Regions from separate parts of the Homo sapiens genome. Here all the other regions are reported to be linked to region 1. Evidence: microRNA targets listed by miRTarBase, many of them from high-throughput screens and not tested one by one. Region 1 holds a microRNA gene; each other region holds the end of a gene's coding sequence.
Evidence for each region. The annotated mature microRNA hsa-miR-5693 reads GCAGUGGCUCUGAAAUGAACUC and lies in region 1 at 2,200-2,221, opposite strand. An mRNA with a match to its seed (bases 2 to 7 or 8) in the 3' UTR can be bound and repressed. Matches are read on the target gene's strand: a 7mer-m8 pairs with bases 2 to 8, a 7mer-A1 pairs with bases 2 to 7 and ends in A, and an 8mer does both.

Region 2: the mRNA of ZNF410 is a reported target of hsa-miR-5693. Seed matches in the 3' UTR shown: 7mer-m8 at 1,963-1,969.
Region 3: miRTarBase lists SLC16A10 as a target of hsa-miR-5693. Seed matches in the 3' UTR shown: 7mer-m8 at 869-875.

What each region holds. Positions count from the first base shown.
Region 1 is chr13:51,346,377-51,349,533 of GRCh38, forward strand. MIR5693 (microRNA 5693) reads right to left here and starts at 2,263; the gene lies at 2,191-2,263. It overlaps SERPINE3 (serpin family E member 3), which reads left to right. Exons shown (of 10, transcript NM_001386375.1): 5 at 649-858; 6 at 1,837-2,035. It also overlaps a transcript of INTS6 not described here.
Region 2 is chr14:73,930,870-73,934,026 of GRCh38, reverse strand. It overlaps ZNF410 (zinc finger protein 410), which reads right to left. Exons shown (of 12, transcript NM_021188.3): 12 at 1,506-2,524. The coding sequence ends at 2,486. It overlaps FAM161B (FAM161 centrosomal protein B), which reads left to right. Exons shown (of 9, transcript NM_152445.3): 9 at 1-1,751. Among named protein-coding and RNA genes, the nearest start is that of FAM161B, 18 kb to the left of the region's middle.
Region 3 is chr6:111,221,910-111,225,066 of GRCh38, reverse strand. It overlaps SLC16A10 (solute carrier family 16 member 10), which reads right to left. Exons shown (of 6, transcript NM_018593.5): 6 at 1-3,064. The coding sequence ends at 2,832. Among named protein-coding and RNA genes, the nearest start is that of SLC60A2-DT, 36 kb to the left of the region's middle.

The sequences.
Region 1 (3,157 bases):
AAGGGTCTGCCTGGGGAGGGAATGTCTAATAATTCCTAGGAAATGGCCCCAAACAGAACCAGGAGCAGCATCCCAACCTGTTCAGAAAAGAATAAAAAGCAGGGTCTTCAGCAACAGCTGGTTATAAACACATATCAATTTGCAATGAACATATTTTAATAAATACTCTACCAACCCAACTCCAGAGATGACTCACTGCCCCCACCTCCCCTGACTGGTCACCCAGGTGTCAGGACTTCTGAGTTCTCACTTTCCATTTCCCTCTCCACACCCTCATCCCCCAGCAGGGGTTGTCATTGTCGCCCCCATACCCAGCCCTACAGAGCCTCTGACTCTGGCCCTGTGAGGTTATCTTAAAGACTCTAGGTCTAGGATTTTTATAAAATGACCATATCGCTCAACAGTCCCCAAAAGTTGAGAGCAGCTCCTGGTGCCTTGGGTCCCTGACAGCACAAGGAGCTGAGACAGGGAATTAAATATTCTTAAGTAGACTAAAAAGATATTGTAAGATGAAGAGAGAGACCACCTTAAGCAAAAAGACCTGCATTTTCGCATTTTAACTCTGCACTCCTTGTCCGCACACACACTGGGTTCGGTTCAGTTTCAATGCACATTTAACCCATGGCCACCTTGCTTTCCTGCTTGCAGGTGGGGGCCCCAGTGAGGGCCCTGGTGGCTGGCCGTGGGAGCAAGTCAGTGCAGCATTTGCTCAGCTTGTGCTTGTGAGCACCATGTCCTTCCAAGGCACTTGGCGAAAGAGATTCTCCTCCACAGACACACAGATCCTGCCTTTCACCTGTGCCTATGGCCTCGTCCTTCAGGTCCCCATGATGCACCAAACGACCGAGGTCAACTACGGTGAGCTCTGCCCCTGCTGGTTTGTCTAAAGGGAGAGGAAGCCTGGGCCTGAGGGCAGGAGAGAGGAGGCCAGGTCCCTGCTCCTAAGGGATCGGGATGTGTTTCCGCAGGGTCCATCTGCTGGACTGGGCATGCATGGCGGAAGGAAAGACTAAGGTGCCCGGAGACTTTAGAGAGGAGTGTGGGACAGTGTGCTCTGACAGGACAGTGAGGACACAGATGTGGAAGAGAAACTCAGTTTCATGCCTGACATTTCCTTCTGCACTAGTAGAGTTTGGACCAAACTGCCACCCTGGCAGGCACAATAGGCCGGGATTGAATGGCTGCTCCTTTAAGATCGGGTACAGTAGTACCCTGTACCCTTATCCATGATTTTGCTTTTTTGAGGTTTCAGTTATCCGCATCAGAAAATATTAAATGGAAAATTTCACAAATAATTCTCAAGTTTTAAACTGCACGCCCTTCTGAATAGTGTGGTGAAATTTCCTGACGTCCTTCTCTGTTCCACCTGAGATATGAACCATCCCTTTGTCCAGCATCCCCAGGCTGTCTACAGTATGCCCGTTGGTCACTTAGTAGCCATCTCAGTCATCAGATCGAGAAAACATAGTATATGCAGGGCTCGTTACCATCCACAGGTTCAGGCCTCTACTGGGGTTCTTGGAGCATATCTGCCAAGGATAAGGGGGCACTACTCTATGTGGTTCTGCATGTGCCATCGTCCCCCCCCCCATACCCAGTCCTAGAGAACCTCTAACTCTGGTCCTGTGAGGGTATCTTAAAGACTCTAGGTCTAGGATTTTTATAAAATGACCATATCGCCCAACAGTCTTTGGCCTGAAACCGCCTCCTGAGGGTGAGGTGGATGCTCGGTTTTATTGTTTCCAGTCCTCTGAGCCAGCCTCTCTCAGGGTCCGACACTGGTTCATTCTCCTGGCTCCTGGGACAGAGCTGACCTCTGATCCACTGTACCCTCAGGTCAGTTCCAGGACACTGCAGGCCATCAGGTGGGGGTGCTGGAGCTTCCTTACCTGGGAAGTGCAGTGAGTCTGTTCCTGGTGCTGCCCCGTGACAAAGACACCCCCCTGAGCCACATCGAGCCACACCTCACAGCCAGCACCATCCACCTCTGGACCACCAGCCTGAGGAGAGCCAGGATGGATGTGTTCCTGCCCAGGTGAGCAGCTGAGTCCCCCTCACAGGTGCTGTGCAGCCAGCAGTCAGAAGAGCGTGGATTTGCACACAGGTGGTCTGCCTCCAGGGTCTGTGCTTAGCCACTGGGATGACTTGTTTAATATGTATCCCCAGAAGTTAGACCAAGAGGAAGTGACCCTAGAGTTTGAGTTCATTTCAGAGCCACTGCTGGCTAGCTCACAGCACAGACTGAAATGAACTAACTTCCCAGAGTCTTTCCAAGACAAGATATTCTGCCTTCACTGGGCTGGAATGGAGCCCCCCAGGACCCCCTGATCCAGCCCTAGGCTGGACCAGTTTTTGGAAAGGAAATGCTCGTGGTTCCCTTGTAGGAACGTTGCCCAAATCTTATCCCATCCTAAGAGTATACAACTGTCATTTTTCCAAAACCAAAGAGATAAGATGACTTACGTAATTGAGCAAGTACAGATAAAATTCTGATCAGACGCCAAATTAAGGCATAAAATTTTGACACTTTAAGTCTCTGTGCAGAAGGTTCTCATTCTTTCTAAATGGAGGTGAACTCTCCTTTAAGAAGACCCAATAGGTACAAATACAAATCAAAAAGTGAAGTGGTGGCATTCTATGTTGCTTTTTCAAAACAAAATCTATTAGCAAAACTCATAACTTTACAAAAAGACTCCTCTTAGGGCTTCTTTAAATGATGAGCTTCTGTGATGTATTTGAAATCAGAGTAAATTTATAACCATTTTTTGACCAGCATTAAGCAAGGAATGTTGTCCAGTAGCCACTAGATGCCTTGGCCTCTCTCCACTGCCTGGGCTTCCAGTAGGCAAAGGCAAAGTCCTTGGCAGTACTCCCTTGAGGAGTTAAAAGTAAATCTATGCACTAGAAGGAAAAAATACAAAGAGAGACCCAGTAAGTTAAGGGCCAAGGTCTAAAGTGAGATCTGGCATAACCCAGGGCAAAAGGTGCACTTAACTCTAAGGTAAAGTGTATCTCTCAAAACTAAATATTTGGACCCCAAACCAAAACCCAAATACTGGATATTTCAACAGATCTCTCAGGGAGGGAGCAGAAGCAACCCTAATCTTCCTATTATATTTGAGAGAAACTCAGCAAGGGAAGGAAGAGCAGCGTTCCG
Region 2 (3,157 bases), not on the chromosome of region 1:
AACACGGCAAAACTCCACCTCTACTAAAAATACAAAAATTAGCTGGGCGTGATGACACGTGCCTGTAATCCTAGCTACTTGGGAAGCTGAGGCAGGAGAATCACTTGAACCCAAGAGGCAGAGGTTGTAATGAGCTGAGATCACTCCACAGCACTCCAGCCTGGGCAGCAGAGCAAAACTCTGTCTGAGAAAAAAAAAGAGCAGCAGATAACAGAGAATAGTTCAAGGAAATCAAAGTGGGGAGGCTCAGGTGGAGGGATGGTAGCCTAAAGTTAAGGGTTCCTGCTTTGTGCCTCACACTTAGAGAATTAGGTACAGAAAAGAGAGCACAGGCCCAAATGCCTATAAGGGGCTAGTGCAGAAACATAAATGCGTCCATGGAGTGGGTGTAGACAGTAGGAGATAGTAGACACTGGAAAGTATCAAATCCTGCTGGAATATAGGCTCAGAGTTACTACATCAACTACATTTTCATCAAGCCAGAAATTTGTATGCTATCAACTAATTTAAAAATTACTTAGAAATATTGTATGGGCAAAATAAAATACATCTGCATATCAGATCTAGCCCATGGGGGATGAAAAACTTACAACTTCTAGTACAGGATTTCTTATCCTCAGTGCTATTAATATTTTGGGCCACCTAATTCTTTGTTGAGGGTTGGGGAAGGGAACTGTCCTGTACATTGTAGAATGTTTAGTAGCATCCCTGGCCACTACCTGCTAGATGCCAGTAGTACCCCTCTCCCCAGCTGTGACAACCAAAAATGTCTCCAGATATTGCATATCCCCAGGGGGCAAAAATGTGCCTGGCTGAGAACCACTGCTCTAATATAAATGGCTGCATGAAGCAAAAACTGGCATTCTAAGAATACAAGTAATTGCCATGAACACAGTCTATGTACTATGTGATTATGCATGTCATTAACAAATTAAGAATTTAAAACAATTCTCTCCCGTTATCTGTTTAGAATGTGCCTGTGTGTTTATGTGAGCATGAGGTTCATTTTAAGTAAACTTAAAATTTCCCAGACAACCAAGATTTTCTACTAGTAGGTGAACTTTGGAATAATTTTCTTCTCACCAATAATAATTGGATATTCTGGCTCGGTGCAGTGGTTCATGCTTGTAATCCCAGCACTTTGAGGGGCCAAGGCAGGAGGATCGCTTGAAGCCAGGCGTTCAAGACCAGCCTGGGCAACACAGACCTCATTTCTACCAAAAAAACCACAAAAAGTTAGCTGGACTGGTGGTACATGCCTATAGTCCTAGCTATTCAGGAGGCTGAGGTGGGAGGATGCCTTGAGCGTAGGAGTTCAAGGTTACATTGAGCTATGATTACACTACTGCACTCCAGCCTGGGTGACAGAGCAAGACCCCATCTCAAATCATAATGATGATGAGTGGATATTTTCTCAGTAGCTGTGGAGACAGGATGACTGATAGCAAGAGTGCCTGCTCTAACTAAAGCACCTTTCTCAAGCTTTTTTAAAAAAACTATCTTTGTGGAAAAATTCAGAAGTATCTGTTTTTATTGCCATTTTCTCAGATGCGTCTTTTTTGGTGGTGACAGAGTAACTATCACCTGGGCTTAAGAAATGAAGATGTTCTTGTTGTTTCCTAAGACTCCTCGGTTCAGTTTTACTGGTATGGAATCCTAAGGGTAAATCAATACACTATTTTAAAGGGAAAGATTAAATTCTTAATCTCTAAGAAAACAAATTTTGTATAAAACAAGAGCCAAAGAACTGACTGGGCTGTTTTGTTTATTTAAAGGAAAACCTGAATCTCTGCATCATGTAATTTTTAACTTTAAAAAAACAAAAACATGAAATCCCTCTTAACATGCTACTGTATGTTCCATTAACGAAGAAAGCAAAGTGACCAAGTAGAAGTGTATAGGACAAGATAGTACCTCAGCCTGGGCCAAGGGGAGATTCAAGTAATTTATTTTTTTGCAGCCCAGTGGCAGAGAGTCTCTTACTCAGGTTGCTAAAGGGAGAATGTAACAAGAGAATTGACATCACTCCCTTCTTCAAAGCAACAAGGCATCTTGAAAACTCAACTTCCTGGTGAAGCTCTGTTGTTGGTAGCAGGAATTATTTCATCCATGTGAAAAGACAGCTGAGTCTGGGATGAAAACTCTTCAAAGGAAAACCTCCCCTCAACAGTCAGAATGAAGAACTTCAGCCAACACATAATCAAATTCACTTTTGGTCTATCCCAGAAATTTGCAGTGGGAAGAGAGGTAGGTACAGTTTCCCAGCCCACAGTCATTGCTTCATTCCTTGTCTGATCAGATGGTAGTTAGAAAAGAAGCTCTCCTACATCCATCTTCTATACCAGGAAAGAGGAAGAGTGGCAAAAGCAGAGTCTTGTGCCTTCAAAGATTCATTCTGGTTCTGTTGTGGGCTAAGGCATCCTGTTCCCAGTATACGCATTTTGAGATCAGATAGAGTTGCTCTTCCAGGAGTCAGCACCCACGCTCATGTCCGTCTTTCAGTTAAATCTCCTTGGTTTAGTAACTGTAAAAGATTGAAAGCAAATCTAGAATAGGTTACAGTTGAATTATAGAAAAAATAATTCATAGTAAAAAGTATTAAGAGTGGAGGATGGAGAATGCACTACAGGGGTGAATGAAGGCTATCTACTTCCAAAGCAAACACATGCACGGACTGATAGATGTCACTGTGGCCTTGGGACAGCACTTTAGCCATGTCATAAGGCTGGCATTTTAACTCTGGCAATCAAATATTCTGAGTCTATAAGCCAAACTATTGTTTGTGTAGTTACCTACTCATCAGTCAGTGACAGAGGAATCTCTAACTTACAGGGAAAACAGAAATGGTGGAACCAAAATCTTATACGTGTCAGCCAAAGGATAGGCTGAAGGCTCAAGTAGGAGAAGGAAATAGGAAGAGGAGCTGTTCCTTTATAAGTACTATATGAGAGCTGAAACCCACTCATAAAAGATCTAGGGGTTCCTTGGGCTTAAAAGAATGATAAGCCTAAGGGACTCCTGCATAATGGCAACTACCACTAACATTCTACTCTATACACAAGGCTCTATTCAAAGGAGTTTTGAAATAATGAAATTGGCTTCCATTTTAATATAAAAACAAAATGAGGCTGGGTGCAGTGGCTCACATCTGTAATCC
Region 3 (3,157 bases), not on the chromosome of region 1:
GGAAGTTTCTTGGCCATCTGTTACAATAGTATCCAATCTAGAGTATCTATAAAAAGGAATGTTACTCCCTTTCATGCTTTTTTTGGCCTCAAATGCCAGAACCTTTCGAATTTGAGAATTTTCTGAGTCTTATCAAAAACAGGATGAGGAGATAAAAACAGAGTTCTGACTCTGTATTCTTTTCAGACTCTCAGAAAAGTGTCTGGATTGAACACAAAAAATTTAGGCTTATCAGGTCACTTTATTGCAGCAGTAACACTTCATTCAGAAATTAGAAAGGATTTAGTTTGACTAGATTAAAGCACAAATTTTTATATTAGTATTTTTCATTTTCTTTGTGCATTTTAAACTTTTAGAACTTTTCCCACAAAAAACATAGTACTAAATATGCATTTATGGAATTTAGCATCTTACGTTTATACTTTTTCTTCTTAATTTTATATTATTATAGCAGAGTATTCTCCGTATGAGTCTATTACAATAGAACTTTTTCAGTGTTATAGATCCAGTTTGATTCATTCCATTAAACTGAAAACTACATATGTGAAGTTTAATATACAAACACATATGCTGAGATCTAAGTTATATATACTTGTCACTGCTGTTTTAATATGGAAACTAACCAAGCAATTTCTTTTAGTTTCAGATGATCACTTTTTTCCTAAAATCAGCCAAATTTTGAAAAGAAAAACACTGTAGAGGTCTTTACAGAGTAAAGTTTTCATTTTTAAATTACTTTCTGTAAAATTGGGGAGAAGGTGTTTTGAGGGGAGTCTGTGCTAAAACTTAAAACAAAATTTAACATTTATTTTTTGTTTTTGATTTTCTTTTACAGACAGGGTTCTGCTCAGTTGAACAGGCTAGAGTACAGTGGCATAGCTCACTGCAGCCTCCATCTCAAGGCTCAAGCAATCCTTCCACTACCTCAGCCTCTGAGTAGCTGGGGCTACAGGTGGGCACCATCATGCCTGGCTAATTTTTAAATTTTTTGTAGACACAGGGTCTCATTATGTTACCCAAGCTGGTCTTGAACTTCTGGGCTCAAGTGATCCCCCTGCCTTGGACTACCAAAGTGCTAGGATTACAGGCATGAGCCACTATGCTTGGCCTAATTTTTTTTTTTATTTTTAGTAGAGACAGGATCTTGCTATGTTGCCCAGGCTGGTCTCAAACTCCTGGGCTCAAGCAATCTTCCCTCCTCAGCCTCCCAAAGTGCTGGGATTATAGGCGCAAGCCACCTTACCCAGCCAAAATTAACATTTATAATAGTGGGTTTGATGATTGGTCTTAGTAGTATGTTTTGTTGAACTTCTCAAAAATGAGAAAGTAACGTTTTATATAACTGGACATGACTGAATGAAATCATTTTCTAAAAGCTTATAATAAGGACATGAAAGGGTAGTATGGTCAAAATGTAGATTTTTTTTCCTGCAAAAGAACCATCCACAGGCAAATTATCTAAGTCCCCTGAATATGAAATATGACACTATTAGAAGTGGTAAGGTGCAACTGCATGTATGACAAAGTAAGTTGCTGAATGTCTTCACAATCAAAAGCACTAACTTTTAAAGGCCTCAAGTACTAAAGCATAATTTTAGGGATAGAGGAAAGTGTTCTTGTTTTTGTAAATGAGTATGGGTCATGGCATGACTTTGGTTTTATTTTGGGTCCTCAAACTGAGAGCTTTCTTATGATAATCTGTATATAAATAGCAAAAAAAAACAATGGGAATGTTCATAGGATAAATAATATGAGTGCAAATTTTTGCCAGAAAGTTCTGGAAATGTAGGACTTGGTTCTTTTTATAAGTGCTTTTAACCTTTTCAGACTCATTAATTTCATAAACCAATTTAAGCAATTATTTCTATCAGCTACAGATATTTTCTTCACAAATATAAAGGGTTTTGCTCCCCTCCCCATCCTCCAGCCTCCACCAATTTGTGCCTGTAACTGCCACTTGATAGCTGCTCAGTAAGACTTTAAATATCAGGTTCTAGTGCCAACAAATCCAGAAGTCAGAAAAATTCTAAGTTACAATCGCCAGAATATCTTTCATGCATTCTATTTTACTTTATTGTTACAGTTTAAACAAATTCAGAAACGTGGGGTGTTTCTGGCTACTTGAGTAAAACGCACTGCAAACGCAAAGGGAACAACGCTGTAAACTTAAATGATTTCTGAACAGCTCAGGATCCTCCTGGAGGGGATCCTTTTCATCTCACATATTGATTCTGAACACTATGTTAGCACCTGCTCCCAGAAGGTCCCTTGACACTGGAGCAAGTCAGAATATCTTAATATCATAGCTTATTTAACAGCAGGAAAGCAACTTTAACATAGACTTGAGGTTTAGGTAGATCTGGTATTATCTAGAACCCAGGCTTAAATTTTGCAAAAAGTTTCCAAAGAGCATAAGAAAGTAAAACAGAGGTACCAGAACTGAAGACATCATTAACAAACAAAATATTTCCACTCCTAACCAAACTGCAACCCTTTCAGTATAGCCTGAGGTATTTTTAAACATTTGTACAAGCTAAAGATCATTCACAGTTTCCAAAGCTGCTTTTTACTGAGATAGCTTCAAATTTTCACAATATGTGACTTTCAGACGTTTTCATATACCAGAGTCTCTGCCCTCAGACTCATGGAAACATCAGAGATATTTAGTGGCAGAAAATGGTTCTTCTAGTGATAAGGGTTCTATTTCCCAATTATTGTGCTATTCCTAGGATGTGATTAAAAAAATATGAAATTTGCAATTTGTATAAAAGGAAAGGAAACTTGCTTAAAATTCAAAAAGCAAGTCCAGTCTGGTGGAGGTATGTAAGATATTAAATAATAGAGTCAGATTCTTTCTTGAACATTCCAGATGAACTTGACAGCAGAGAGTTCTGGTTTTCCAACATTTTCTCCATCTTTTCTTTTCCAGTGGTTTTACTGATCTCTCTTTGCTTCTTACTATGGATCCACGGGATAAAACAAAGCACAGCACCTCCAATAAGGGGAGGGACTCCAGCGAGGTAGAATGCCACATCATAGGAGCCCAGTTTGTCACGAAGTAACCCTGAGAAGGGAAAAAGCTGTCACCAAGGGAGAACAAGTGTGGCTCTGTAGGGGGTCTAGATCAGCCACAGGACTGATTCAGACATCTCAGACA